Linked DNA regions of Homo sapiens. The protein of the gene in region 3 binds, or shares a complex with, the protein of the main gene of each other region. Each region holds a gene or a part of one and is shown on either strand. Other genes may lie near its edges. The genes, in order: TXNL4A, PRPF4, LSM4 and SNRPG.

Region 1 (7,182 bases), on a different chromosome or scaffold from region 3:
CCCAGATGAAAACTTTATTTATTATTATCACTTTATCAAATGAATTGCCCCACATTTATTAGCAAACTCTAGGCATCTGTGAAATCTTTTAAGCATAGCTCTGTTTCCAAACTGACTTTATTCCTGAAGTTTACAGCTCAACTCTAATCCAGCATGAAGTCAAGTGGGCCCTGTGGAAGCAGCAAATCAATACAACACATCTAGGAAAAATCATATCAAGTCCAGCCTGAACATTTGCAACTGTTACTCACTTTAAAACAGCTGGAATATCCAGACAGAACTCGGAACAAGGTAAGGAAGAGTCCCCATTATCTGCCATTTCTGCACAGGGAAATTTTTAAATAGTTATATTGTTCTTTATACTAAAACCTTATATTTCAAAAATTTCTGTTGAGCTTCTCCAAAAAAGGGCTTCCAGAATTAGGAAGTCATATTTGCCCATAGACTAAGAAGAAAATAAAACATGAATATTCTTTTAATGCATTTCAGGTGTGCACTTTTTTTTTTTTTGGAGACAGAGTCTCACTCCTGTTGCCCAGGCTGGAGTTCAGTGGTGTAATCATGGCTCACTGCAGTCTTGACTTCCCGGGCTCAGGTGATTCTCCCACCTCAGCCTCCCAAGTAGCTGGGACTACAGGCACGTGCCACCACGCCCGGCATTTGTACTTTTAGTAGAGAAGGGGTTTCACCATATTGTCCAGGCTGGTCTCGAATCCCTGGGCTCAAGTGATCGCCTACGCTGGCCTCCCAAAGTGCTGGGATTACAGACATGAACTACCGCGCCTGGCCTAGGTTTGCCCTTTTAATAACTATATTATAATATTCGCATTAAAAGTTTATTAATAAAGCTATCCAAATTTTTGGACAAAAACAAAAATCAGACTATTTTAAAAGACCAAAAAAAATACCCCAAAGTGAGCCCATTTCAACTGTCCTTAAGTGTGTGTCCACTATGTGTGTCCACTAGTGATACAGTGATTCATTCTGTAATAACAAAGAAATTGGACATAAAGGAGTTGGAAAAGAGCAAATCTGGCAAAGACCCTAAACACTTACATTAACACATAAAATCTGTTTTCTAGCTAAGAGCATCTTGCTGAGCTGTGCTCGGATGTGATGAGACAAAGGCCCTCACATCTCCAGCCATCCTAGCCTCGAGCTGCCGGCAGCAGGATCTGAACACCACCCGATGTTTATGCCACCACCTGCAATGTAGAACAGTGAAAGATTCTAGAATTCATAACTCAAAGTCAATACAGCAGTGATTTACTTATTGGGAAACTGCTCTTAGTCAATTCTTCGCTGGATTTCCAGTATCTGCCCTTGTCCACTACAGCTCAAGCAATGACAAACTGATGTGTGGCACTGCCTCTCTCATCATCTCTAATCCCCGGCTGGCAGAACCCCCAGCGTGTGAGAGAACTGCTGCTCTCCCGAATTCCCTAGGTCCCTCCTCAAGTCCTCAGTGTCCAGGAGGAAGAGGCTGCGAGATGGCTGGTACTAAAGCTACTCCACCTCCATCCCTGACCCCCATGGAAGGTGGTTCAAGGTCAAGTCGCATCAGAATTCCCTGAGGGGCTTCTTTAAAAAGCCATTGCTGGACTTCACCCCATACCCATAGAATCAGAATCACAGATGCATTCTAGTAAGCACTCCAAGGGAGTCTTGTAATAACTAAAATATAACAACAGTTCCTAACTTCATGCCTCTCCTACTAAATAAGAAATAGCAAAAATTAATAAATGGCAGGCCAGATAGTCTTTCCTTTCCTGAATATAAAATATGTCCTTACATCTGTTACTCTTTACTCAAAGGAGTTATTTTAACCCAGGCCTACTTTTTAGCATCTGTGAAAGAAAAGATAGCTTCAATGTTACTTTTACTCTTCATTAAAAGGAATAACCTCTCAAATTACTTATGGAAAATTAATATGGCAAATATTTTATTAACACCCTAGTATTTGTGCCCTTTGCCCTATTGCTACAGCTGCAAAACCTCAATAAAAGTCATCCTAAAATTGCTATGAGGAACCACAGAAAAAGAATGAAATCTGGTTATAAAATAGTGTCCTACAACTTTTATTGTCAGCAAGTAAATGCCAAGACCACTCAGTGTACTAATATTAGAAATTCAGAGAACTAATTCTAACAAAGCATATTTCTATTTTCTCCTGATGTTTACTGCACCTCAATCACTGTAAGCTGTAAACCACATGACTCACAAAAAGCGTGGTGGGATAAAAAAACACACCCACAGAAAAGCAGGATTTCTCATGCTATGAACATGAAAGTCCTGCTTTATGCATACAACGAATAACTCAGGTACCAAAAAAAGACGTCCTTTTAAATTAAGGATCCGCGCTCTCAATAAAACCTGCAAGTGCATTTTGTTCACTGAACTATAAGTTTGGGAAAAACGCCTTATCAACAGAAATAATTAATTCATTTGAGAGGAGGGGGATCATAAACCCTTTAAAATATGAAAAACTACAAGAGCTCCCCGCAGAAAAAGGCGTGAAACGCCGGCACAGTCCCCGAGAGCGCTCGACCGCAGCGAGGGGAGGAATCGCCTGAACGACGGAGCCGCGGCCCCTCCTCGGGGAACAGCTCGCGCCCCCAGGCGACGCCGGCAGGGCAGAGGCGCGGGGCAGATGCGGAAGCACAGCCCGCAGAGCGGGAGAGTCCGGCGCGCTACCTTCTCGGCGATGCTGTACAGGACCTCGTCCATCTTCATGCACGTAGGATCCCAGTCGTGGCCGAAGCGGATGACGACCACGCGGTCCTCCTCCGAGAGGATGGCCTGGTCCACCTGCCAGCCGTTGTGCAGGTGCGGGAGCATGTACGACATGGCGGCCCGCGCGCTCGCCGCCGCCCAAGGCGGGGCGCCAGGGAGGGCCCAGCGAGGTGGGCTCAGCCGGCCCCTCACTCCCCGGCCCCCGCCGCCCCCGGGCCCACGGACGAAATCCGGTCCCGCCCGCACACGCAAACTCCGCTGGGACTGCCACCCGGCAGAACGTCTGGGCGCGCACGCACCGACGCCGTGCGTGCTGACGGCATGCGCGCGCGCTAGCGCCGTGCGTGCTGACGGCATGTGCGTATAGGCGCCGCGCGAACGTGTAGTTGGCCGGGTGGAGCGGCGGCGACCTGGGCACCGTGGAGCGCCGTTGGTTCCGTCATAGCAGCTGTCGGAGTGGGGGTTCCTCCCCAGCGTCCAGGCGGCCTGGTGGTCCTGAGAAGCCCCGGGCTCGCCGTGCCCTGCCCCCACGCTCCCGCCCCGAGGCCGCCCGCCGCCGCCCGGGCTGTCCTCCAGCCACGGATGGGGACGTCCAGAAAGGCCCGGAATGCCCGGCACTGCGGCTCGTTTTCTTCCTTTCTGGTGCTTGTTTCTGTGTGTTACTAAGACAGTTCATGTGTGTCATTTGTGAAACTTGATCATAAAAATGTGTCGTTGTTGCCATACCCAACCACAGCAGAGTCGAGCAGCGGGGTAGGGAGGAAGCACTGGGCAGGCCGTCCTTGAGGAATGTCACCATCAGGCCGGCTGCTGAGCTGCCTGTTGTAACCTGAAACCAGGTTTTTTAATTTGTCTTTTTATAAAGAAAAAAAATTTTTTTTTGAGACGTGCAGTGACGTGATCTTGGCCCACTGCAGCCTCCGCCTCCCGGGGTCAAGCGCTTCTCCTGCCTCCGCCTCCCCATAAGCTGGGACTACAAGGCGCCAGCCCGGCTAGTGTTTTTTTGTACTTAGTAGAGACGGGGTTTAACCATGTTGGCCAGGCTGGTCTTGAACTCCTGACCTCAAGTGATCTGCCCGCCTCGGCCTCCCAAAGCGCTGAAATTACAGGAAGAAGCCACCGCGCCCGACCTAAAGCCAGTTTTATTCCATAGCTTCAGCATAACTTCCACCTCCAGGACTGATCTGGCCCCCTGGCTTCGCTCACCAGTCAGAGCTCCCCAAACCCTTACTAGTGCCAGTGAACTTTCTCAAAGAGAAATAAGTTAATATTTCTCTTTTTAAAATAAAACCTCTAACCTCTGTTCTTCTGAGAGAGCACTTTGGGTTCATGCTGGAGACTCCCTGGTTTGCAAACTGATATTGATAGTAAAACTCTTGTCTACTATCTAGCTATCCTGGTGGTCCTTTAGATGACAAATTTAAAACAAATCACGCCCGGGCGCGGTGGCTCACGCCTGTAATCCCAGCACTTTGGGAGGCCGAGGCCGGCGGATCGCCTATGGTCGGGAGTTCAAGACCAGTCTGGCCAACATGGTGAAACCCCGTCTCTACTAAAAATACAAAAAATTACCCGGGCATGGTGGCGCCCGCCTATAATCCCAGCTACTAGGGAGGCTGAGGCAGGAGAATCGCTTGAACCCAGGGGGTGGAGGTTGCAGTGAGCTGAGATCGCACCACTTCACTCCAGCCTGGGTGACAGAGTGAGACTCCATCTCAAAAACAACAACAAATCACTATGCAGATGCTGTGGTGTCTCTCAGATGGGCTGTGGCATGGTGAGAACTACAGTCTGAAGAGCCTGCTGGCATGGGGATTGAAATGGGTTCCATGTTTGGTTTCCTCTGGGACACAGCACCATAAGGTGCTTTGATAATATGCACCCACAATTTAAATACTAGAATCACAAGTGCAGCTCACTGCCAGATTAAGCTTTTTACATAATACAGAATATTTCCCAATTATATACGAAATGCTTTATTGTAATGAAACAATTTCAGGTTGGTAGGATATTAGAGATCATCTAAATCTCTTTCATTTTATAATTGAGTAAAGCAGAGGCACAGAATATAAGCATAGTGGTTAACAGTGAGGGTTTTAGTTACATAAAGGCGTGTTCAGGTTCATCTGTGCCTTGCATAAGTTATCTCAACAAACTTCAGTTTCCTCATCCATGAGATGGGATGATAAAACAAAATCTCCTGTACTTCATTGGCACCAGGTACACACTGGAGAAATCTGAGCCCTTACTAAGGTCAGGCTATTGCCTTCTAAAAAATTCCTTACCGTCATTTTGGTAGTCACTCATTTCAGATACAAACACAGTTGCTTAACACATCACAAGCATTTTATTCACAGGAGAGTTGTTCCAAGCTAAGGCATAAGACTCAAATGTCCCCAAATAATTTATTGAAACTCATTTTTTATTGTGTTACTTATAACAAGATTTATCGCCTTAATTTTTAAGGACATTAAGTACATTCATATTATGCAACCATCACCACTATCCATCTCCAGATAAATCTTTTCTTTAATAAAAACTTTTGGCCGGGCGCGGTGGCTCACGCCTGTAATCCCAGCACTTTGGGAGGCCGAGGCGGGCGGATCACGAGGTCAGGAGATCGAGACCATCCTGGCTAACACGGTGAAACCCCGTCTCTACTAAAAATACAAAAAAAAAATTAGCCGGGCGCGGTGGCGGGCGCCTGTAGTCCCAGCTACTCGGGAGGCTGAGGCAGGAGAATGGCGTGAACCCGGGAGGCGGAGCTTGCAGTGAGCCGAGATTGTACCACTGCACTCCAGCCTGGGCGACAGAGCCAGACTCCGTCTCAAAAAAAAAAAAAAAAAAAAACTTTTGTTGAGATCTAATCCATATACTATAAAATTCACCAATTGAAGGTGAGATGGTTTTTCAGTGTTGTGGAACCAATACCACAATCTAATTTTAGGAGAATGTTATCACCCCGAAAAGAAAACCTATACCCATTAACAGTCATTTCCCATTTCCCTCCCATTCCCTCAGCCCCTGGCAATCACTAATCTATTTTCTGCCTCTATAGATTTACCTATTCTAGACATTTCATATAGATGGAAACACAAAATATGGAGTCGTTTGTGACTGCTTTCATTTAACATAATGTTCTCAAGGTCCATATTGTAGCAGACATCAACAGCTAGTTCTTTTTAATTGCTGATGAATATTTCATTAAATAAAACAAAAAATTAGAAACTATTCCATTATATGGATATACTACATTTTATCCATCAGTTGATTGACATTTGGGTTGTTTGCATTTTTTTACTATTATGAGTAATGCTGCTATGAACATTCATGTACAAGCTTTTGTGTGGACTTAAGTTTTCATGTGGTAACTGTTTAACATTTTTAAGTATTGCTAAATTGTTTTCCAAATTGGCTACACCATTTTACATTCTCACCAGGAATGTGTGAGGGTTTCAGTTTTTCCACATTCTTGCCCATGCTTGTTATTTATGTACCTCGTGAACCCCAAAAATCTGAGACAGGTCTCAATTAATTTAGAAAGTTTATTTTTCCAAGGTTGAGGATGCATCCATGACACTGCCTCAGGAGGTCCTGATGATATGTGCCCGAGGTGGTCGGGGCACAGCTTAGTTTTATACATTTTAGGGAGGCATGAGACATCAATCAATATATGTAAGAAGAACATTGGTTCAGTCTGGAAAGGCGGGACAACTTGAAGCAAGGACAGGAAGACTCAAAGCGGGAAGGGGGCTTCCAGGTCACAGATATGTGAGAGATGAACAGTTGCATTCTTGTGAGTTTCTGATCAGCCTTTCCAAAGGAGACAGTCAGCTGTGCATCTGTCTCAGTGAGCAGAGGGATGACTGACTAGAATGGGAGGCAGGTTGAAGGGACCCAAGATACTTTCCTTTCACAGCCTTGTATTATGGTCATACTGGTAGGTATAAAATGATAAGGTGGTTTTCATTTGCCTTTTCCTAATGGTTAGTGACTGTTCCTCAGTGGCCAGGCCTATACAAATCTGCCCCAAAGTCAGAGGAAGCTGAGACGCCAAAGAAAGGGACTGGCAAATCTAGTTCTTTAGAGAGAAACATTTAATAGGGACTTATGTACAGAAGCCACATCTGTGTCTCTGGCAGTGGTGAGACAAGGTGGTGGTTTCCCAACCATCACCCCCAGGCCCAGGGCCTTCCCAGACCCAGGGCTTACATACTGTGAAAGGAAAATAAATCTTGTGACCCCAAACTCATTAAGCCAAAGGGAAAAGTTAAGCTGGGAACTGGGTCAGGCAAACCTGCCTCCCCTTTTGGTTCCTAAATAAGAGGGCTGCAAGATGATAACCTACACGCCTCCCCCATATTTTGCCCACAAGGAAATTCCTGGTGAGCTCCAAGATTTCTGCCCTAAGGTGTTCCTGTTAAAATTTCGCCATGGTAATGTAAATCG
Region 2 (7,025 bases), on a different chromosome or scaffold from region 3:
CGCTGTGGCTCACACCTGTAATCCCAGCACTTTGGGAGGCCAAGGCGGGCAGATCACAAGGTCAGGAGATCGAGCCCATCCTGGCTAACACGGTGAAACCCTGTCTCTACTAAAAATACAAAAAATTAGCTGGGTGCGGTGGCGGGTGCCTGTAGTCCCAGCTACTTGGGAGGCTGAGGTAGGAGAATGGCGTGAACCCAGGAGGTGGAGCTTGCAGTGAGCCGAGATCGCGCCACTGCACTCCAGCCTGGCCGAAAGTGTGACACTCCGTCTCAAAAAAAAAAAAAAAAAAAAAAAAAAAAAAAAAAAAAAAAAAAAAAAAAAAAATTTGTAGAGACAGGGTCTCACTATTGTTGCCCAGCCTGGTCTCAAACTCCTGGGCTCAAGTGATCCTCCTGCCGTGGCCTTCCAAAGTGCTGGGATTACAAGTGTGAGCCACCATGGCTGGCTGGCCTTAAACTTTTTAGAGACTTCTTATTTTGGAAATTTTTCAACAAATTACTTTTATATCTATTATCTCGGATGATCTTTCTAACAGACCTGTGAAGCAGGTACGGCAGGAACGATCAAACTTTATAGTGAAGGTAATGAGGCTTGGAGAGGTGGACTCATTTGTGCAGAACCTTGGCTTTCTCCTGAACCCATCTAAAGGTCAGCCTAGTCAAGTAGCTCCTGTGTATTCAATCTAAGTTTCCTTTCTCATTAGATAGCCATGTCCCACAGAAAAACACAACCAAACTCAAACAAAACAACAAAGTTACCACATCCTGAGTTTTCTGCATATGTGGTGATAAGAAAATAAAACAAAGATAAACCAATAATTAACGTTTAACGAGTCCTTACTACATACCAGGCACTGTCAAGGCAAAATGCCTTGCAAACACTACCTCATCCCACTTTACAGGTAAGAACACTGAAGCTTACAGAAATTAAGTATCTTAGCGAGGTCACATAACTGAAAAAGAAAAGCCAGACTGAGTTATGGATACTAGTTGGTCTATAAACTCACTACAGGACCTGTTCCAAAATACTAGTGTCAAGAATGTGACAGAGTGCTTTGTGTAATGGATCTCTGGGGTCACTGGTGAAGAGCGAGAACGGCTAAACCAAGGCTACATTGTATTATACAACAGGTAGAGCACTGACTGACATCTGTAGTTTGGTGTGATCATGAGAAGCAGAGAAAGAGGACGTAGAAATAGACGTCTAACGCAAATGCTAATTTTCTTCCTGAGCCTGTTCCCCATTTAGGAAAAAATGTCATTGTAAAATGGAACTTACCAACAAGCTGTGGCCAGCATCTTGGAATTGGGACTAAAGTGACAGTAGGAGATAGGCCGATCATCCCCAATCTGACTGCAAAAATTATTCAAAGACTTAAAAAGAAAAAAAATACACACACGGTGATCATTAATAGGTTAATCTAAGAGCTCCTTTGCTTTTCCACCATAAAAAGAACAACAAAGCAGCTTTTCAGTTTTAACCCATCCCAAGATTCTTCTATGGTTTTGTTGCTGCTGTTAGAAGACACATACATTGATAAATGAAGTTATATGAAACTCCAGCATGCTGTTTTCTATAGTCTTTTTTTTTTTTTTTTTTTGAGACAGAGTCTTGCTGTGTTGCCCAGGGTGGAGTGTAGTGGCGTGATCTTGGCTCACTGCAACCTCCGCCTCCCGGGTTCAAGCAATCCTCCCGTCTCAGCCTCCCAAGTACCTGGGATTATAGGCACATGCTATCACACCTGGCAAATTTTTGTATTTTTAGTAGAGACAGGGTTTCACCATGTTGACCAGGCTGGTCTCAAACTCCTGAGGCTCAAGTCATCCGCCTGCCTCTGCCTCCCAAAATGCTGGGATTACAGGACTGAGCCACTGTGCCCAGATGTTTTCTACAGTCTTAGGATCACAACTTCTGAGTCAGCTAAATATAAACAGAAAACCCCAGAGAAACTCTGACATATTAACGGGGAGAAATAAAGAATAGAACCATAGGCCTCTGCTGAATACAAAGCACAGTAAGCTCCTGCCACATTAACTGATGGCTCCTTCCATGTCACAGCAGCTCAACTTAAGCAGGGAGGAATCACTCTAGTTGCCTCTACCTTCCCAGAGGTGAGCCAAAGTAGAAAAATCAAATAAACATGAAGAACCTTTAAGATGTGGGACAATTGCTGGGAGCATCTTACCCGGAGAGACTTGTGCAGCTCTTGCATCTGGGAGGTCCTTGTTGTCTCAGGAATCTCCTTATGGAGTCGGGCCTCTTCCAAGCGTTTCATTGCCCTGCGACACAGAAACACCATCACCAGGAGCAACAGGGTTGTAAACAAGGACCCACATGTATCCCTACTCTACCCCTCAATTTCATTTAACAACCATAGTCATTATCCAGCACTCAGTTCCTGAGAGGAAACACACACAAAAAATATGCTTCTTTCTTCTACTGGAGGCTCTCTTTACCTGGGCAACGAATAATTAGCAATCCATAGTCTTGCCACCTTCAAGCTATTTGGTCCTTCATGATACCAGGTTTGCTGATACTGAAAGGCAAATTAAGAGCAGAAAGGTCAAATCTGAAGCATTCTACTCCTCTTATAACTGTCATTTCTCCATTTTAACTGCCCAGAAGGAAGGTGAATTCATTCGGTAATAGGATGAAATCAGGCAGAGGACTTTCTACTGAATTTTTTTCTATGATATGTAACTACATGGTTATACCAGGAATGCCATGATTCTTTCCTGACTGGAAAACTCACTTAGCTCCATTCATACTTACAAAGGAACCAAAACTACTGCCAGCAACTCTTCTTGAATGGTAGAGCCTTCAAAAACATTTCCCCCAACATCTCAGCAAAACAAACCATTGAAAGCAGAAAACGAGAGACCTATCCCCTCATTTCCTTCATGTTTATACTGTGAAGTTAAAGACATGTTCTACCTCTTCTTTGGACTTTTTAGACTTCTCATCATCCTTTTTGGTCTTTTTCAAGGCATCAGTACCGACAACTGAGAGGATATTTCTTAACCTGTTAAAAAAAAAAAAAAAGATCAGAATTTAAACATGGTTGAGATAATACTGTTTTTAAAGTACACTTTAACACAGTTTTAAACACTGTTATTAAAGTTCCCCTAAGATGGGAGCAAGCCTTTACTATTCTCTCACTGTTCAAACCACCTAGCAACCTTTTTTTTTTCTTTTTAAGAGATGAGGTCTTGTTGTTGCCCAGGGTGGAGTGCAGTGGCATGATCATGGGTCACTGCAGCCTCAACCTCCTGAGCTCAAGCGATCCTCCCACTCCAGCCTCCCGAGTGGCTGGGACTACATGTACACTGCTACAACTGGCTAATTTTTAAATTTTTCTGTAGAGAGAAGGGCTTGCTATGTTGCCCAGGCAAGTCTTGAACTTCTGGGCTCAAGTGATCCTCCTGCCTCAGCCTCCCAAAGTGCTGGGATTACGGGCATGAGCCACTATACCCGGCCCTCCAGGAACCTTCTTTAAGAGTCAAGTGGGGATGGCTAAACTCCCAGTGTGGTTTCTCCCACTCAGTCTTCTCTATTTGGAAATTTCCAAAATTCAACTATAAGCAATTACTCTATACAGTTTAGAGTCAATGAGCCCCTACACTGCTACCACTTGGTCTGTGAAGACTGCCAACTTTCACTCAGTGCCACAATGTACTGGATACTGACTCAGGTGCTAACTATACAGTGATGACTAGGAATCAGTTCTTGATTTCAAGTAGCTTAGTCCTGGGGAAACAACAGAGAGTACTGGCAAACTATAATCCATTATATTACCTATCACTATAGCAGTAAGCACAGAGGGCTAGAGGGGACTTTGTAACGGGCATCTAACTAAGCTTAGAGGATCAGGGAAGGCTTCATTAAAAAAAGGTAATATGTAAATTGAGTCCTCAGTTAATCAGGTCAAGGGGGTCAAGAATGAGAAAATGTCAGGCAGAGGGTTAAACAAATAAGGCCTGGAGGTAAGAAAAACATGTTGAGCTTGCAGTCACAAATAATTCAATATGGCTGGAGCGTAGAACATAGAAGAGGACTGGTGAAGAATAGGGCTGCAAATGCAAGGAGGAGCCAGGTCACAAAGAATTGCTAATGCCACGCTCAGGAGGATTTACAGATGAGAAAGATCCCTGAAACAGTACAAAGAATGGATTAAAAGGGAAGAATAATGGCAGGGAAATCAGACAGTACTGTTGTAGTGACGCTCTGAGTCACAACCGTGGACTGAAATTCAGATAGTAGCAGTAGTGACTCAAAGGATTCATTTAAGGAACATAATAATGAATAAGATAGACTTTGCTGGTGGAAAAAACAAACTAAACAATAATAAAAAAGTATACCCTTTGAAAAGGCTAATAAAATAACATACTATGACAGAGAACAGAGGGGTTAGGTGTGACGAAAGGCTTCTTTGAATAGGTGGCATCTATGCTGAAACGAAAGAATAAGAAGTTTGACAGGGATCCAGGTTAATAAAAAATGAAGAAGAAAGGCCGGGCGCGGTAGCTCACATCTGTAATCCCAGCACTTTGGGAGGCCCAGGCAGGCGGATCACTTGAGGAGGTGTTGAGAGGATCACTTGAGGAGGTGTTCAACACCTGGCCAACGTGTTGAAACCCCGTCTCTACTAAAAATACAGAAATTAGCCAGGCATGGTGGCACATGCCTGTAGTCCCAGCTACTTGGGAGGCTGAGGCAGGAGAATGGCTTGTACCTGGGAGGTGGAGGTTGCAGTGAGCTGAGATTGCACCACCGCACTCCACCCTGGGTGACAGAGCGAGACTCCGTTTCAAAGAAAAAAAAAGGAAGAAAAAAAGCCTCTAAAAGACAAGACAGAAGAATAAAAGTAGACCAATTATGTGGAAAGACATAAAAAGAACTAGCATATTCCATAAGGACCAATGTGGCTATTCTAGTAAATTGGGGAAGGGAGACATGAGTAAGGCTGAAGACCTTACAGACCATGGTAAGAGTTTTTTACTCCAAGTATGAGAAGACAATCTAGGATTTTAAGCAAGCAATTAACACAACATGTTTGGGGCTATCACAACAGTGCAGATTTGAAAGCAGTAAAGATAGAGCAAAGAAGATAGCTGGAGTTGTATCTCGCAAGTAGAACAGACCAGATTTTGCTAATGGATTATAAAGGAGGCTAGGCAGATTTTCAACTAAGAATTGTATGAGTATAGGAGAGAGGTGGGGAAATATTTCAATTCAGATGTCTCAAGTTTGAAGTACCTGTGGGATACCTAAGCTGCAGTGAGAGATTTGGGAATCATCAGAACACACAGTGAATGATGCCATGGGAGTAGAGCTGATCACCAAGGGCAAGTAGAGAAAAAGGCAGCCTGTAAAGGGCAGGCAGAGAAAAAGAGGTTTAGAAGGTAAGTGAGAAGAATTAGCTAGTGAGAGAAGAGGAAAATCAAGAGGATTTGTTATTAGGAGAGTGAAGGAAAGGGAGTAGTTCAAGGAGGGAGTATTTCAAGGAGGAGTGGCTGGCAGTATACTAGGGCTATTCTTAGTAAAGGTGGATTGGTGATCTTAACAAAGAGCAATTTTAATGTGGTAGGGGTTGGTCAGTTTGCAGCAGGTTGAAGAGTAAATAAGGGTAAGGACCTCAAGGGAGTAATAGAAAAAACCCTTCCAACAAGCTGGATGATGAAGGGTAGATGAGACAGTGGACAGAGAGACCAGAGGGGCTCCTCATAATTGTGTGTGACTAGACCACAACTAAGACTTCGCAACCTGCAAATAACAAGAGGGCATTATCTGAGGATGGTACCCCTCTTCAATAAAATCCAAGAAACATTTATCATTGTTCTATGTCATTGATATGGAATGCATTTGATGTCTCAATTTTCAAAGCCCAACAACAAATGTTTATCCAATTCAAAACTCGCACTGGGGAGGGGAGGCAAGGGAGCATGTTAGCACCCTCTTCCAAGTCTATAAAGAAAAACGGGCCAGGCACGAAGGCTCACGCTTGTAATCCCAGCACTTTGGGAGGCCAAGGTGGGTAAATCATTTGAGGTTAGGAGTTCAAGACCAGCCTGGCCAACATGGTGAAACCCTGTCTCTACTAAAAATACAAAAATATAAAAAATAACTAAAAATACAAAAAAGAAAAATGTGGTGGCAGGTGCCTGTAATCCCAGCCACTTGGGAGGCTGAGGCAGGAAAATCGCTTGAACCCGGGAGGCGGAGGCTGCAGTGAGCCGAGATCACGACGCTGCACTCAAGCCTGGGTGACAGAGCAAGACTCTGTCTCAAAACACAAAACAAAACAAAACAAAACAAAACAAAACAAAACAAAAACGAACAAACACAAAAAAGAAACATTAATAGTGCGGTAAAAATTGGCCTAAGACAGATTATGGGCTAACTCATATAAACACAGTAAGATATTGTTAACATGATTTGAGACATTCTATTAAAGTTCAACTAAATGATCAACCAAAATTTGGAGTAGAACCCTGTGATTATAATAAAGAAAAAAAGTAAATATTTAGAAAGGCAACCTTTCTCTTCTTTCAGCAGGACCCTCTCCAAAAAGTGTGATGGGTTCCCCCAAGGCTCTAAGGCAAGCTTTGACCTCTGAGTCATCTGTGGAAACATTGATCTGCCGGGCTCGCTTCCTTCTCTCAAACTCAGCCAATACTTCTGCCTGTCGCTCGCTGATATGCTCTTCAATTTCAAACACTTCTCCTATTAAAAAGAAAACAGGCAACATCAGCAGATCTTCTTCAAATAGAGAGAAATAATTTCTAGTAATTGCAGTCTGTGTATGCCCTGAGGGAAAAGTAACTGTCTATTACACATTTTATAGTTTACTGTTTTTCAGTTTATTAAATTATGCCAAACACATAAACCTAAATGACACAGCTTCAAAAGGCAAGAAAATGGTTCAAGCCACCTCTTGTTTCATTTATTAACTTTGTGCCTATATAAACACACACTTTGGCTGAGACCAGCAAGTAAGAGTACAGAACATCTTTTGCAAATGA
Region 3 (7,025 bases):
CTGGGCATGGTGGTGCATGCCTGTAGTCCCAGCTACTCGGGAGCCTGAGGCAGGAGAACTGTTTGAACCCAGGAGGCGGAGGTTGCAGTGAGTTGAGATAGGGGGAGGTTGCAGTGAGCTGAGATCGCACCACTGCACTCCAGCCTGAGCAACAGAGTGCCACTTGGTCTTAAAAAAACAAAAAACTAAGAAACACAGAAATGTTTAAAGGAATAAGTGAGACAATGGTGATGGTGGCCACTGATCCAGGGTGGCTGGGGGCCAGGTGGGCACAGCTGGGCTGGTCCTGGCAGGCACCCCCACAACACCAGATATTTGGGCTTCAGTGTTCCACAAATGCTGTTTTTTACTGCAATAATTACTCATCTATTTTGGTATGTTTTGAGAACAAAGATAAGTAGCAGATCATTCTGAGGATATGCTGCTGTTAGGAAAAGACTGATATTTTTTGGTGTCTTTTATGAGACAGGGTCTTGCTCTGTTGCCCAGGCTGGAGTGCAGTATCGTGATCATGGCTCACTACAGCCTCAACCTCCTGGGCTCAAGCCATCCTCCCACCTCAGTTTCCCTAGTAGCTGAGACTATAAGCGCACACTACCACATGTGGTTAATTTCTTTTCCTTTTGTAGAAGTGGGGTCTCACTGTTGCCCAGACTGGTCCCAAACTCCTGGGCTCAAGTGATCCTCCTGTCTTGGCCTCCCGGGGTGCTGGGATTATAGGCATTAGCCACCACACTCAGTCCAAGCCTGAGATTTTCTTTTGAGATGGAAGTTTCTCTGTTGTTGCTCAGACTGGAGTGCAATGGTGTGATCTCAGCTCACTGCAACTTCTGCCTCCCGGGTTCAAGTGATTCTCCTGCCTCAACCTCCCAAGTAGCTGGGATTACAGGCGCCTGCCATCACGCCCAGCTAATTTTTTAGTAGAGACGGGGATTTCACCATGTTGGCCAGGCTGGTCTTGAACTCCTGACCTCAGGTGATCCACCCGCCTTGGCCTCCCACCAGGGCTGAGATTTTTAAATGACTCAACTTAGGCATCTGCCCAAGAGAAATGAACACAGGCAACCATACAAAAATGTGTGCGTGAATGTTCACAGTGACACTGTTCGCAATAGCCAAAAAGGGGAAAGAGCCCAGATGCCTATCAGCAGACAAACACATAAACAAAATGTAGGCCGGGCGTGAGCCTGTAATCCCAGCACTTTGGGAGGCCGAGGCGGGCGGATCACGAGGTCATGAGATCGAGACCATCCTGGCTAACACAGTGAAACCCCGTCTCTACTAAAAAAAAAATACAAAAAAAATTAGCCAGGCGTGGTGGCGTGTACCTGTAGTCCCAGCTCCTCAGGAGGCTGAGGCAGGAAAATGGCGTGAAACCAGGAGGCGGAGCTTGCAGTGAGCCCAGATCACTCCAGGCTGGGCGACAGAGCTAGACTCCCTCTCAAAAAAAAAAAAGTGGTAAGTATCCGCTCCACGGAGTATCGTCTGGCTATAAGGAATGAGGCACTGACACAGGCCACAGGGTGGATGAACCTCAAAAACACGTTGCTGAGTGACAACCACCAGGCTCGAAAGGCCTCATGGTCTCCGTTCGCATGCATGGGAAATATCCGGAATAGGCAACCCCACAGAGACGGCAGCTGCCTCATGCTCATCAGGGACTGGGGCTGGGAAGTGACTGCTGATGGAAATGGGCTTTCCTTTTGTGGAGACGGAAATGTTCCGGCCTAGATAAAGGTGGTGGTTACACAACCTGTGACTGCACCAAATGCCACTAAATTGTGCACTTTAACTGAAGTGTTAGTATGTAATATTATCCTTTTTTTTTTGAGATGGAGTCTCGCTCTGTCACCCAGGCTGGAGTGCAGTGGCGCGATCTCAGCTCACTGCAAGCTCCGCCTCCCGGGTTCACGCCATTCTCCTGCCTCTGCCTTCCAAGTAGCTGGGACTGCAGGTGCCCGCCATCACGCCCGGCTAATTTTTTTGTATTTTTAGTAGAGACGGGGTTTCACCGTGTTAGCCAGGATGGTCTCGATCTCCTGATCTGCCCGCCTCGGCCTCCCAAAGTGCTGGGATTACAGGCATAGAGCCACCACGCCCGGCCAATATTATCATTTTTTGGAGACAGGGTTTCACTGTCACCCAGCGACCTGCAACCTCAAACGCCTCAGGCTCAGGTGATCCTCCTGCCTTAGGCTCCCAACTAACTGGAACTACAGGTGCACGCCACTACACCCAGCTAATTTTTATATTTTATGGAGAGACGTGGTTTCTCCATGTTGCCTAGACTGGTCTCTGAACTCCTGGGCTGAAGCCATCCTCTAGCCTCAGCCTCCCAAAGTGCTGGAATTATAGGCCTGAGCCACCATGCCCAACCTGAAGTTCTTTTTATTTTTTTAAGTGACAGGGTCTTGCTATATTGCCCAGGTTGGATTTGAACTCCTGGGCTCAAGTGATCCTTCCACCTCATTAATTTTCTTTTTCTAGAGACAAGGTTTCACTCTGTCGCTCAGACTGGAGCGCAGTGGTATGATCATAGCTCACTGCAGCCTCAAACTCCTGGGATCAGTCGATCCTCTTGCCTCAGTCTCCTGAGTAGCTGTGACTATAGGCACACACCACCTCATCTGGCTAATTTTAAGTTTTTCTTCTTGCCCAGGCTGATCTCGAACTCCTGAGCTCAAGCGATCCTCCTGTCTTGGCCTCCCAAAGTGCTGGGATTACAGGCGCGAGCCACTGCAACTGGCCCATTAAATTTTTAGTAAGTATGTATGTATTACTCTTACAAGCAGCAGAAATGACAGGAGTGTGGACACTCCTGGGGAGGGAGAAGAGAGCAAACTGCCATGCTGGTGGACAGGCAGGCCAGGAAGCCGTCTGCTCAGCCACCGCCCCTGTGCTGAGGCTGGCCCCCTCTCAAACAGGCTTTCCCAGACCACTGAGTACTCACCATGGGGTGATTCTGAGCCGTCTTCAGCAGTGACAAGGGAAGCTGAAAGGCAAATAAAGCCACATGATTTGTCTGTTTGACCAGCGCCTGGGAGCTCTGGTCTTGAGTCCCACCCATGACTCATAGATGGTGCGGTGCGGTTGAGGGGGCACAGGAGTGCGTGTCAATCACCCCCCACTGGAAATGCCATTTCCTCACTCTGCCCAGCCCTGGAACACACACCTGCCTCTCAGATTAGGAAGAAAAGCCTCACACACCCTCCCTACTCCCGTAGGTGGCCACCACCTGCTCTTGGTGCTGAACACTCTGGTCAATTTTTTTTTTTTTTTTTTTTTTGAGACGGAGTCTCGCTCTGTCACCCAGGCTGGAGTGCAGTGGCATGATCATGGCTCACTGCAACCTCCACCTCCCGTGTTCAAGCCTCACAAGCAGCTTGCCTCAGCCTCCCAAGCAGCTGGGGACAACAGGCATGCGTCACCACACCCAGCAAATTTTTGTATTTTTAATAAAGGCGGGGTTTCACCATGTTGGCCAGGCTAGTCGCAAACTCCAGACCTCAGGTGATCCACCCGCCTCGGCTTCCCAAAGTGCTGGGATTACAGGCATGAGCCACCGTGCCTGCCCTAATGCTTGTATTTTAAGCTCAAACTGGTATCTCTGAGATGCATCCATGTTGATGAGGTTACTCTGAGTATGGAGTTGAGGACACTACAGCTTGGAAACCCGAGGAACTTGCCCAGTACTATGGCGCTAGGAGGAGACAGAGCTGGCCTGGTCCTGTCTGTCTGAAGCAAGCACAAGACCATGCCTTGCAGGGCAGCCCCAACTGGCCCAAGACTGACACTGCCAGGCCCCAATGCAGGGGTCAATCCCATCAGAGAAGGCCACATCTGAGCTGGTTTTATTTTTATTTTTTTAGATGAAGCCTTGCTCTAAAAATACAAAACTTTGCTGGGCACGGTGGTGCGCATCTGTAGTCCCAGCTACTTGGGTGCTGAGGCAGGAGGATTGCTTGAGCCTGGGAAGCAAGCCTGTCACCCAGGCTGGAGTGCAGTGGTGTGATCTTGGCTCACTGCAACTTCCACCTCCCGGGTTCAAGTGATCCTCCCGCCTCAGCCTCCCAAATAGCTGGGATTATTAGGGGTGCACCACCATGCCCAGCTAATTTTTGTACTTTTAGTAGAGATGGGGTTTCTCCATGTTGGCCAGGCTGGTCTTGAACTCCTGACCTCAAATGATCTGCTTGCCTGGTCCTCCCAAAGGGCTGGGGTAACAGCATTGAGCCATCACCCCCCGCCTGAACTGGGTTTTCTTTTTTTTTTTTTTTGAGACGGAGTCTCGCTCTGTCGCCCAGGCTGGAGTGTAGTGGTGCAATCTCGGCTTACTACAAGCTCCGCCTCCCGGGTTCATGCCATTCTCCTGCCTCAGCCTCCCGAGTAGCTGGGACTACAGGCGCCCACCACCATGCCCGGCTAATTTTTTTTTATTTTTATTTTTGTATTTTTAGTAGAGACAGGGTTTCACCGTGTTAGCCAGGATGGTCTCGATCTCCTGACCCCGTGATCCGCCTGCCTTGGCCTCTCAAAGTGCTGGGATTACAGGCGTGAGCCACCGCACCCGGCCCTGAACTGGGTTTTCAAAGACAGGAAGTCACCAGGTAAGGTGAACTTTCAAGATTTTTTTTTTTGATGGTGACAGGCTTTTACTATATTGCCCAAGCTGGTTTTGAACTCTTGGCCTCAGGGAATCCTCCCATCTCAAGCTCCCAAGTAGCTGGAATTATAGGTATGCACCACCACGCCTGGTTTCAAGATGTTTTTTTCCATCATTACTGAATTTCTTTATTATGTCAAATATGTAGTATTTCTATTACTGGGGGGGAAATCAACACTTTCATTTTGGAAACAGAAAACTCAACCCGTACGCTGGGAGCTGCCTCGGGTAACGCAGAGCTGTGCCTGGGTGCGGGGTCCTATAACATGCCCGTTCTAGTACTGCCATGAGGAAGGCCCCAGCACCAAGGGGCCCTGACAAGACAGTGCCTCATGGGACACAGGCTTCACCTAGCCCTGTCCTGGTGACTGGAATTCCAGGTGGCCCTGACCCCAGATGCCTTTGCTGGGAGTCCTGCCCTGGCCACCACCCTAATCCACAGTGTGGCTGCTTTTCCAGGTGGTGTGAACTTGAAGGCCTCTCCCTGTGGAGGCCGGAAATGGCCCTCAACCCTGGCCGGGTGGCTCCCCAATGAAAGGAAGGGGTTGGGGAGGGAATCCTACATCCCACAGCCCCTTCCTGAGAAGAGCTGCCCAGGGGAGGTTGGTGCCAGCAGGAAGCCAGGCCCAAGCCCACTTCCTGCACCGGCTTCCTGGAAGAGCCAGATAAGGGGGAAGAAAGGGCCATGTGGCCCCGGGGCAGCTGCTAGGAGAGGCAGGGGAGGAGGGCTGCGGGCGGCTGGGTGTGCATCTGACTGGGTGCCACCAGCCACAGAGAAAACACAGGAGCCACAGACTGGCACACGGGTCTCATGCCCAGGTCGCCCTTTACTGTGAAGAAGCCGTGGGTTTTCCTCAGCAAGCCTGTTTTCTTTCTCTAGTCCGTAACAGGAACGGGACCTTGGACCTCCTCCTGGATCACCAGGGAAGGCGCAGAGGTCAGGCTAGCCCTTAAAGGCCCACCTCTCATTCTGCAGAGGAGGCGCCAGCGCCCACAGCAGAAGTGACCTGCCCAGGGACATCCAGCAAGGCCCTGGCAAAGCTGCCCAGAGGCAGGTAGCTTGTAGACACACCTTCCATGCCAGTGACAGACCCTCTTGGGCCACCACCTGGTCTCAGCGACCAATAGCACAGCCTGGGAGGACCCACGGCCTCCTTGCCTGTCACTTGCAGTCCCATCCAAAAAGCAGCAGAAAGAACATCTGAGAAACAAAGAGAGCTGGTGGGATGGCCACGGAGGCTCTCGCCTGTAATCTCGGCACTTTGGGAGGCTGAGGCGGGCAGATCACCTGAGGTCAGGAGTTCCAGACCAGCCTGGCCAACATGGCAAAACCCCACCTCTACTAAAATACAAAAATTAGCTGGGCGTGGTGGTAGGCAACTGTAATCCCAGCTACTCAGGAGGCTGAGGCAGGAGAATCGCTTGAAACCAGGAGGCAGAGGTTGCAGTGAGCCAAGATTGCGCCACTGCACTCCAGCCTGGGCAACAGAGCGAGACTGTTTCAAAAAAAAACAAAAAACAAAAAAACAAAACAAAAGAAAGACTGGCTAGGCGCCGTGGCTCATGCCTGTAATCCCAGCACTTTGGGAGGCCAAGGTGGGCGGATCACGAGGTCAGGAGTTCGAGACCAGCCTGGCCAATATGGTGAAACCCCATCTCTACTAAAAATACAAAAATTAGCCAAGCATGGTGGCGCACACCTGTAGTCCCAGCTACTTGGGAGGCTGAGGCAGAAGAATCGCTTGAACCCAGGAGGCAGAGGCTGCAGTGAGCTGAGATTGTGCCACTGCACTCCAGCCTGGGTGACAGTGACACTTCATCTCAAAAACAACAACAACAACAACAAAAAACCCAAATAGGGTTGGTGCAGACCCACTCTCACAACACTCCTCAGGCCCGCTATAGAGTCAAGGCAGACAGGCTCTGCCACACTGGCCGCCACACCCATTCCTGCCACCTGACCTTTGCTTCTGCTATTGCCTCTGCCTGGGGTGACCTTCCCCAGGCTGCTGAAACGTCACCTCCTTTGGCCAGGCCCTTTTAATGGCCACCCTCTGCCTCATGGGTGTTTGTTTCCATCATAGGATGCAGCCAGTCTTTAATTACCTTGTTTATTACCTGTGTCCCTCGCTAGACTGGAACACTCAAAGTGGGTGTGGACTTTGTCCAGGGCCAAGCACAAGGCCAGGCACATGAGAGGGACTCGGTAAATATTTGCTGAATAAATACACAAGAAAAATGCACACACTACCCAGGGAGGCATGCAGGGAAGGCAGAACACTCGCCCCACCCCACAGGTAAGGGAAGGAGTGGCTGCGGGACAGGGAGCTGCCTGACTCCCAGGCCCTCCCAGGCTGCAATG
Region 4 (7,025 bases), on a different chromosome or scaffold from region 3:
TGGCAGCCAATTATCAGCAATGAGTATGATAAGGTAGTAAAGAGCAGATTTAAAAAAGAATGGCTGGGCATGGTGGCTCACGCCTATAATCTCAGCATTTTGAGAGGCCCAGGTGGGCAGATAGCTTGAGCCCAGGAGTTTGAGACCAGCCTGGGCAACATGGTAAAACCCTGTCTCTACAAAAATACAAAAATTAGCTGAGGGTGGTGGTGCACACCTGTGGTTCCAGCTACTCGGGAGGCTGAGGTGGAAGGATCAACTGAGCCCAGGGAGGTTGAGACCACAGTGAACCAAGCTCCATGCTACTGCACTCCGGCCTCGGTGACAGAGTGAGACCTTATCTCAAACCAACAACAAAAACCAGTAAACACAGTGCCCTGAAAATGACAATGGGAACTGAAAGAGTCTAAAGATTGACACTCTTCTTCTAAGTTAACAGAGCTCCCCTCCATTTTTTTGAGACTGGGACTAGCTATGCTGACCAGGCTGCAGTGCAGTGGCTATTCACATGCACAATCACTGCACACTGCATCCTCGAACTCCTAGGCTCAAGTGGTTCTCCTGCCTCTGCCTCCTGAGTAGCTGGGACTATAGGCGCACATCACCATGCCCAGCATAAGCCAGGAGTAGAAACATGCTTACCTAGTTATCAGAATTTTATTTTCATTTTAATTATTATTTTTTTTGAAACAGGGTCTTGCTCTGTCACCCAAGCTGGAATGCAGTGGTTCAATCACAGCTAACTGCAGCCTTGACCTCCTGGGCTCAAGTGATCCTCCCACTTCAGCCTCTCAAGTAGCTGGGACCAGAGGCATGAGCCACCAAGCTGGGCTAATTTTAAAATTTTCTGTAGAGACAGGGTCTCACCATGTTGCCCAGGCTTATCTCAAACTCCTAGTCTCAAGTGATCCTCCTGCCTTGGCCTCCCAAAGTGCTGGGATTACAGGTGTGAGCCACTGTACCTGGCCAGTTATCAGAATTTTAAATTCTCAATTTTTTTTTTGGCAACAGATATTGAACATCACATCTCATTGACCAAAGCAAGAAAAGCTAGCCTTCCTGCCTAGCTCCCTGCTAAATTTACATATTTGTCTTGTCACATAATATTTAGAAAATAAGGCTAAATGGTGAACTTTGTCCCACCTTATCTGTGGTCCAAAAACATTAAATGCATAGTCCCAGCAACAGACATCCGTAAGTTTTACACTGCATGCTGTTCTTAGCAGTGTGATGATACCTCATACTGTCCCTGGATGTGGATTATCCTTTGTCTAGCATCTCCATGCTGCCCATTAATCAGTTATCTCAGTTTTATGATTGACTGTTGTGGTATCAAAGGGTTACTTGTGTTCAAGTAACCCTTTTTTTAACTTAATACTAGCCTGAAAGTATAAGAGCAGTGATGCTGGCAATATGGATATGCCAAAGAGAAGCTGTAAAGTGCTTCCTTTAAGTGAAAAGGTACAAGTTCTTGACTTAATAAGAAAAAGAATCATATGTTGAGACTGCCAAGATTTATGGTAAGGACGAATCTTCTATCTGTGAGATTGTGAAGAAGTAAAAAGAAGTTCGTGCTGGCCAGGCGCGGTGGCTCACGCCTGTAATCCCAGCACTTTGGGAGGCTAAGGCAGGTGGCTCATGCGGTCAGGAGTTTGAGACCAGCCTGGCCAACATAGTGAAACCCTGTCTCTACTAAAAATACAAAAATTAGCTTGGCGTGGTGGTGTGCGCCTGTAGTCCCAGCTACTCGGGAAGCTGAGGCAGGAGAACTGCTTGAACCCAGGAGGCGGAGGTTGCAGTGACCCGAGACCACACCATTGCACTCCAGCCTCGGTGACACAGTGAGACTCTGTCATACACACGCGCGTGCACACACACACACACAGAAATTTGTGCATAGGGTTCACTACTATCTGTGGTTTCTGGTACCTACTCTGAGGATAAAGGAGGCCTATTGTAGTGCTCTTCCTCTTTTGCCACTGTGTTTGAGGCCTAATTCTCCAAATCAAACTTGAACCATCAGGTCCAGAATTACATACTGCTCCCTTTTTTGTGCTTCAATGATGCTACAGAAGGACAACCCTAGCAAGAGTGCCTGAACTATGTAACATAATAAAAAGTAAGATAGAGGCGATGCCACTGACAACTCTGGGGATGTCTCAGAAGATAGTTGAGATTTATCATTAGGTAACGATCCAACTGACAGGTTAAAAACAAACTCACTCCTGAAAACAAACACATCCTTTTTGAGACAGGATCTCGCTTTGTCACAAAGATTGGAGTGCAGTAGTGTGATCTCAGCTCACTGCAGCTTTGACTTCCTGCCTCAGCCTCCTGAGTAGCTGGGACTACAGGTGCACACCACCATGCCCGGCTAATTTTCTAATTTTTTTGTAGAGATGAGGTCTCACTATGTTGCCCAGGCTGATCTCAAACTCCTGGGCTCAAGTGATCCTCCTGCTTCAGCCTCTCGAAGTGCTGGGATTATAGATGTGAGCTACTGTGCCCAGCCAACACACACATAACTGCAATAAAACAGTATTAAGTAATTTCAATGGCCTCAATGGATCACTGACTTGGACAAGGTAATAATGAAGCCAACTGTCCTTTGTTAAACAACTTCTAACAAAATAACAAAACCTTAACCTATTTGTTTCCCTTCTTCCAACTTTAGAAAAGTCAAAAAGTTCATCTCTGTTCTTGCCTTTTAAAATGTCTTTTATTAAAGAAGTCTGATGTGTTATTATTTCTTTTTCAAAGTGAAGACTCAGCAGCAAGAATTACTGTCTGCTGATAAAAACTTTTTTTTTTCTTTGGCTGGGGGTTGGGGGGCGTGTGTGTCACATAAACCTCAGAGATGGAACAGGAGGCTGCCCAACACACTAAGTAGGTAATCATTACTTAAATGACTTGGGATGGCAGTGCTTTCAACCAATTTCTGTGCAAAGAAAATAAAGTCCATAAAGTTTAGGGGGAAAATTGCCAGAGGGATGCTCTATTCCTTCTCTGATAAAATTCCAATGAGCAGTGTGTTACATAATTCTCTAATCTTCTCAAAGCAGAATTGACAATTAGGTGCCAAGTTCTTCCTGAATCCTTTTCAGCAAATTTTTTGCAAGGAACTAAAAACCTAATCTACCTTCTATTAGAATGAAAATTTATTTGTAAAAATAAGGGCTGAGAGGAAAATCTTGGGGTATCTAGAAAATGTTTTTAAAAGGACTTGGCTACTAATCATGCTGGCAGCCTTATTCAACAGAAGCTCACAAGGGAATATACCTGAAAGACAAGTCAATTTACATGAAACTTGGGGGTACAGTGTGGTATCTGGAGACTCTAAACTGTTTTTTCAGTCATAACTATTGATTTGCTTTTCAAAATACAGTAATGAAAAAGTATCTGAAATAAGTAATAACACAAACCTTGGAAAGAATGGTATGTAAAAAAATTAAACAGGCAGAGATGTCAAAATAGGTCTATCTTCAACTTTACTGCTCAAACTTAAAAATCAAGGTTAATAAATCAAGGCTAATAATTAGCAACTCTTACCACTCCTTGGAGGTCTTTATGCTTAATAATTTGCTAAAAGTAAGTTGTCCTTTTTGGTTCACCTTTTTCAAGAACTTTGGGCTTACCGCTTTATTAGGTATGTTGTCCTGTGTTAGACAAAGAGGGACTCAAAGTCTGGGTATCAAAACTCTTCTTCAGCAATCACTAAAACTACGGCCCAATGAATGTAGGAATGTTTAATCCTATGAGGGCTCAGTATGTGCTTATTTTTTCCTGCTTTTTCTCTCATGTGAATAACTGTCATTGTGATTATCCCTTGTAACTTTTACCTTGGCTACCTTAAAATTTTGGGTGTGGTAAACCAGAAAATCCAGGTTAACTATGTATACAAGTAAAATCAGAAAGTGTTACCTGTGAACTGGCAGATCTGCATTAGGCATTAGTAGAAATGCAAAACCTTAGTTAAGTTCTGCCCCATACCTACTGAAGTAGAATCTTCATTTTAAGAAGATTCCCTGGGGATTCATATACACATTAAGGTTTCAGAACTACTGCTCTAATGAAGGACCAACTATGAGCCTCTATTGCAGAATAAAGCTCAAAAAGGATTTCCAACAGCTATTTCAAGCGCTAGGACCTTAGGTTCTGTATAGTTGAGATCTTACCTACAGGTAACCAGGATATTACTACAGCTGAGTAACTGCCGTATGCAACTAAAAAGGAGATGGAAAGTCTAATCTTGCCTGTTATTTGCCATTTCTGGGGGTTACTAACCAGGAAAGTTAATACACATTCCAAAAGAAAAATGAAATCTCCAAGAGAACTCTTGTATCTTTACTTACCACCATTCCAATATTGTTCTGTTGTCCACTAGTCGCCATCTCCACACATTCATCTATCACAAGGTTCATAAAGGGATCAAATCCCCGCAATATTCCTTGGACATGTCTGCCACCATTTAATTTCACTATTAAAAAGAGAAAAAGAAGTTTTAGAAAAACATTCCATTAGCTACCAAGCATTCACTAAAAATCAGGTGGGATAAAACACAAGTATTTGAGATGTCTGAAACCCACTATCCTTACTGTATGACAAGAACTGGGTTAAACATTTTTGTATTTACTTCCACATTTTAATTTATAAGAATCCTAAAAAGTAGTATTATCCTTACTTTATAGGACAGAACTAAACTTCAGAGCTTTTTTAAAATTTTTATAAAGATGGGGGCTCCCTATGTTGCCCAGGCTGGTCTCGAACTCCTGGGCTCAAGGGATCCTCCCGCTTTGGCCTCCCAAAGTGCTGGGGGATTATAGGTGTAAACCACCGTGCCCGAGCTTTTAAGTAACTGGGTTCATGGTTATACAGCTACTGTACGACAGAAGTGAGATTCAAGCTGAAGGCTGCTTACCTCTAACGCTCATGGTTTTTTCCCCTACATATATTTCAAGTACTGTGTGGGTCAGATTTTTAGATAAATTGAACAAATGTTATTCCTACATATTCCCAAGAAACAAGATAACTGTTCCTTGTCTAAGTCCTTTGTAGCTTGTTTAAAGAAAAAAGGTTGATAAATCCTGTTAATTTTGCCAAAGTGAGGAAGGGCTTACATAAGATAAAGTCTGAAGTGCTGTTAAATTAATTATCAGAAATTAGGTAAATAAAATTGTCTAGTTAGGATTAAGTAATCTGCTTAACTAACGGATGTGAATTAGAGGTCCTGTGTGCTTTAAATTTTTTTTTTTTGAGACGGAGTCTAGCTCTATAGCCCAGGCTGGAGTGCAGTACCGCCATCTTGGCTCACTGCAAACTCCGCCTCCTGGGTTCATGCCATTCTCCTGACTCAGCCTCCCGAGTAACTGGGACTACAGGCGCCCGCCACTGCACCCGGCTAATTTTTTTTTGTATTTTTAGTAGAGACGGGGTTTCACCGTGTTAGCCAGGATGGTCTTGATCTCCTGATCTCACGATCCGCCTGCCTCGGCCTCCCAAAGTGCTGGGATTACAGCCGTGAGCCATCGCGCCTGGCTGCTTTAAATTTTTATAAAGTTGCTCCAAACATTGCTAAGACACATGTAAAAAGCAATTAAATAATTAAAAAAAACCCCAAAACAACAACAAACTTACATGATAACTTCTTGTCCATAAATCTGAAAAAGGAAAAGGGTAAAGATTATATAACCAATTAAAAAAATTTAAGCATAAACAAGTAAATAGGTATAGTTAAGATAATTTGCTAAAATTTATACAATGGGAATAATGAAATCTAAAATAGTAAAAATAATGTATTGCTGTAAAGAGTGAGGGAGTAGGGCGAGGTAGCTCACGCCTGTAATCCCAGCACTTTAGGGGGCTGAGGCGGGTGGACTGCTTGAGCTCAGGAGTTGAGACCAGCCTGGGCAACATGGTGAAACCCCATCTCTACCAAAAATACAAAAATTAGCTGGGGGTGGTGGCACATGCCTATGGTTCCAGCTACTTGGGAGGCTGAGGTCGGAGAATCACTGGAGCCTGCCACGTTGAGGCTGCAGTGAGCCATGATTGCGCCACTGCACTCCAGCTTGGGCAATAGAGCGAAACTGTCTCAGGGGAAAAAAAGAGTGGGGGCGTAAAGGGTTACCTAAATTAGACATTCTAGGAAGCAAAGTAATTTGGGAAGAGGAAAGGCAATAAAAATGAAACATATTTAGACTATATTAATTTACATTAAGTAGAGTATACTAATGTGAATTACATTCTTATTGTTCAATACTACGTTGTTTCATTGACCTAAATTTCTTTCTTTTTTTTTTTTTTTTTAAGAGATGGGAGTCTCATTATGTTGCCCAGGCTGGTCCTGAATTCCTGGCCTCGAAAAATATACTCCCCCTCAGCCTCCCAAAGTGCCGCTGGGATTACACAGGCATGAGCTACCACATCTGGTCTCATTGACCTAATTTTCAATGACTGGATTTTATAGTCACAAGAGAAAAACAAAGACTTGCCTATGTTTGGTTATTTCCAAAACTAAGTTGTAAAGACAGCAAACAGTAATCAAATCATATCCAATTCAATAGGTATTTTATATTTGAAATAAGTAGTGTTCTTTTATTTAATATTAAAGCATCAAGCATAAATGTTCAGGGTAGTCCTCAACATTTAAGTATATTTTAGAATAATAAATGCACATTTGAAACTTCAAACGATATGAATTAAAAAAAAATTCCATTTTAGTGGAATACGAGATTAAGCCATGCAGTCAAATCAGTTTTTAATTTCTTCCATATAGGCCAGAAAACATAAAATTTCATTCAATTTTAAAAATTTCATTCAAATTTTAAAATATAAAAAAATGAAAAAAAGATGTTTAGTATATGGGCCACGAAGTGGGGCACTTATTCAATTTTAATGTATAGGATTATCATGGGAAAATGTAAATATAAAACAAGGAGCATGACTGAAGGAGGGAGTAGATACATTTACAAGTAAAAATATATTTATGGGCTGGGCGCGGTGGCTCATGCTTGTAATCCCAGCAC

Evidence for each region.
Region 1: LSM4 (region 3) and TXNL4A share a complex: the UniProt entries of both Homo sapiens proteins name them as parts of the precatalytic spliceosome.
Region 2: LSM4 (region 3) and PRPF4 share a complex: the UniProt entries of both Homo sapiens proteins name them as parts of the precatalytic spliceosome.
Region 4: LSM4 (region 3) and SNRPG share a complex: the UniProt entries of both Homo sapiens proteins name them as parts of the U4/U6-U5 tri-snRNP complex.

The regions. Positions count from the first base shown.
Region 1 is NC_000018.10:79,985,546-79,992,727, forward strand, and holds the start of TXNL4A (thioredoxin-like protein 4A), read right to left. Parts: upstream 3,019-7,182; 5' UTR 2,848-3,018; coding exon 2,695-2,847; intron 1,206-2,694; exon of another isoform or gene 1,093-1,205; coding exon of another isoform or gene 1,057-1,092; intron 1-1,056. UniProt on the Homo sapiens protein: Plays a role in pre-mRNA splicing as component of the U5 snRNP and U4/U6-U5 tri-snRNP complexes that are involved in spliceosome assembly, and as component of the precatalytic spliceosome (spliceosome B complex).
Region 2 is NC_000009.12:113,278,646-113,285,670, reverse strand, and holds part of PRPF4 (U4/U6 small nuclear ribonucleoprotein Prp4), read right to left. Parts: intron 6,727-7,025; coding exon 6,540-6,726; intron 3,026-6,539; coding exon 2,938-3,025; intron 2,540-2,937; coding exon 2,460-2,539; intron 2,283-2,459; coding exon 2,189-2,282; intron 1,377-2,188; coding exon 1,282-1,376; intron 1-1,281. UniProt on the Homo sapiens protein: Plays a role in pre-mRNA splicing as component of the U4/U6-U5 tri-snRNP complex that is involved in spliceosome assembly, and as component of the precatalytic spliceosome (spliceosome B complex).
Region 3 is NC_000019.10:18,313,074-18,320,098, forward strand, and holds part of LSM4 (U6 snRNA-associated Sm-like protein LSm4), read right to left. Parts: exon of another isoform or gene 6,444-7,025; intron 4,608-6,443; exon of another isoform or gene 2,993-4,607; coding exon 2,951-2,992; exon of another isoform or gene 2,596-2,950; intron 1-2,595. UniProt on the Homo sapiens protein: Plays a role in pre-mRNA splicing as component of the U4/U6-U5 tri-snRNP complex that is involved in spliceosome assembly, and as component of the precatalytic spliceosome (spliceosome B complex).
Region 4 is NC_000002.12:70,283,716-70,290,740, forward strand, and holds part of SNRPG (small nuclear ribonucleoprotein G), read right to left. Parts: intron 5,658-7,025; coding exon 5,635-5,657; intron 4,478-5,634; coding exon 4,353-4,477; intron 3,657-4,352; coding exon of another isoform or gene 3,546-3,656; exon of another isoform or gene 3,483-3,545; intron 1-3,482. UniProt on the Homo sapiens protein: Plays a role in pre-mRNA splicing as a core component of the spliceosomal U1, U2, U4 and U5 small nuclear ribonucleoproteins (snRNPs), the building blocks of the spliceosome.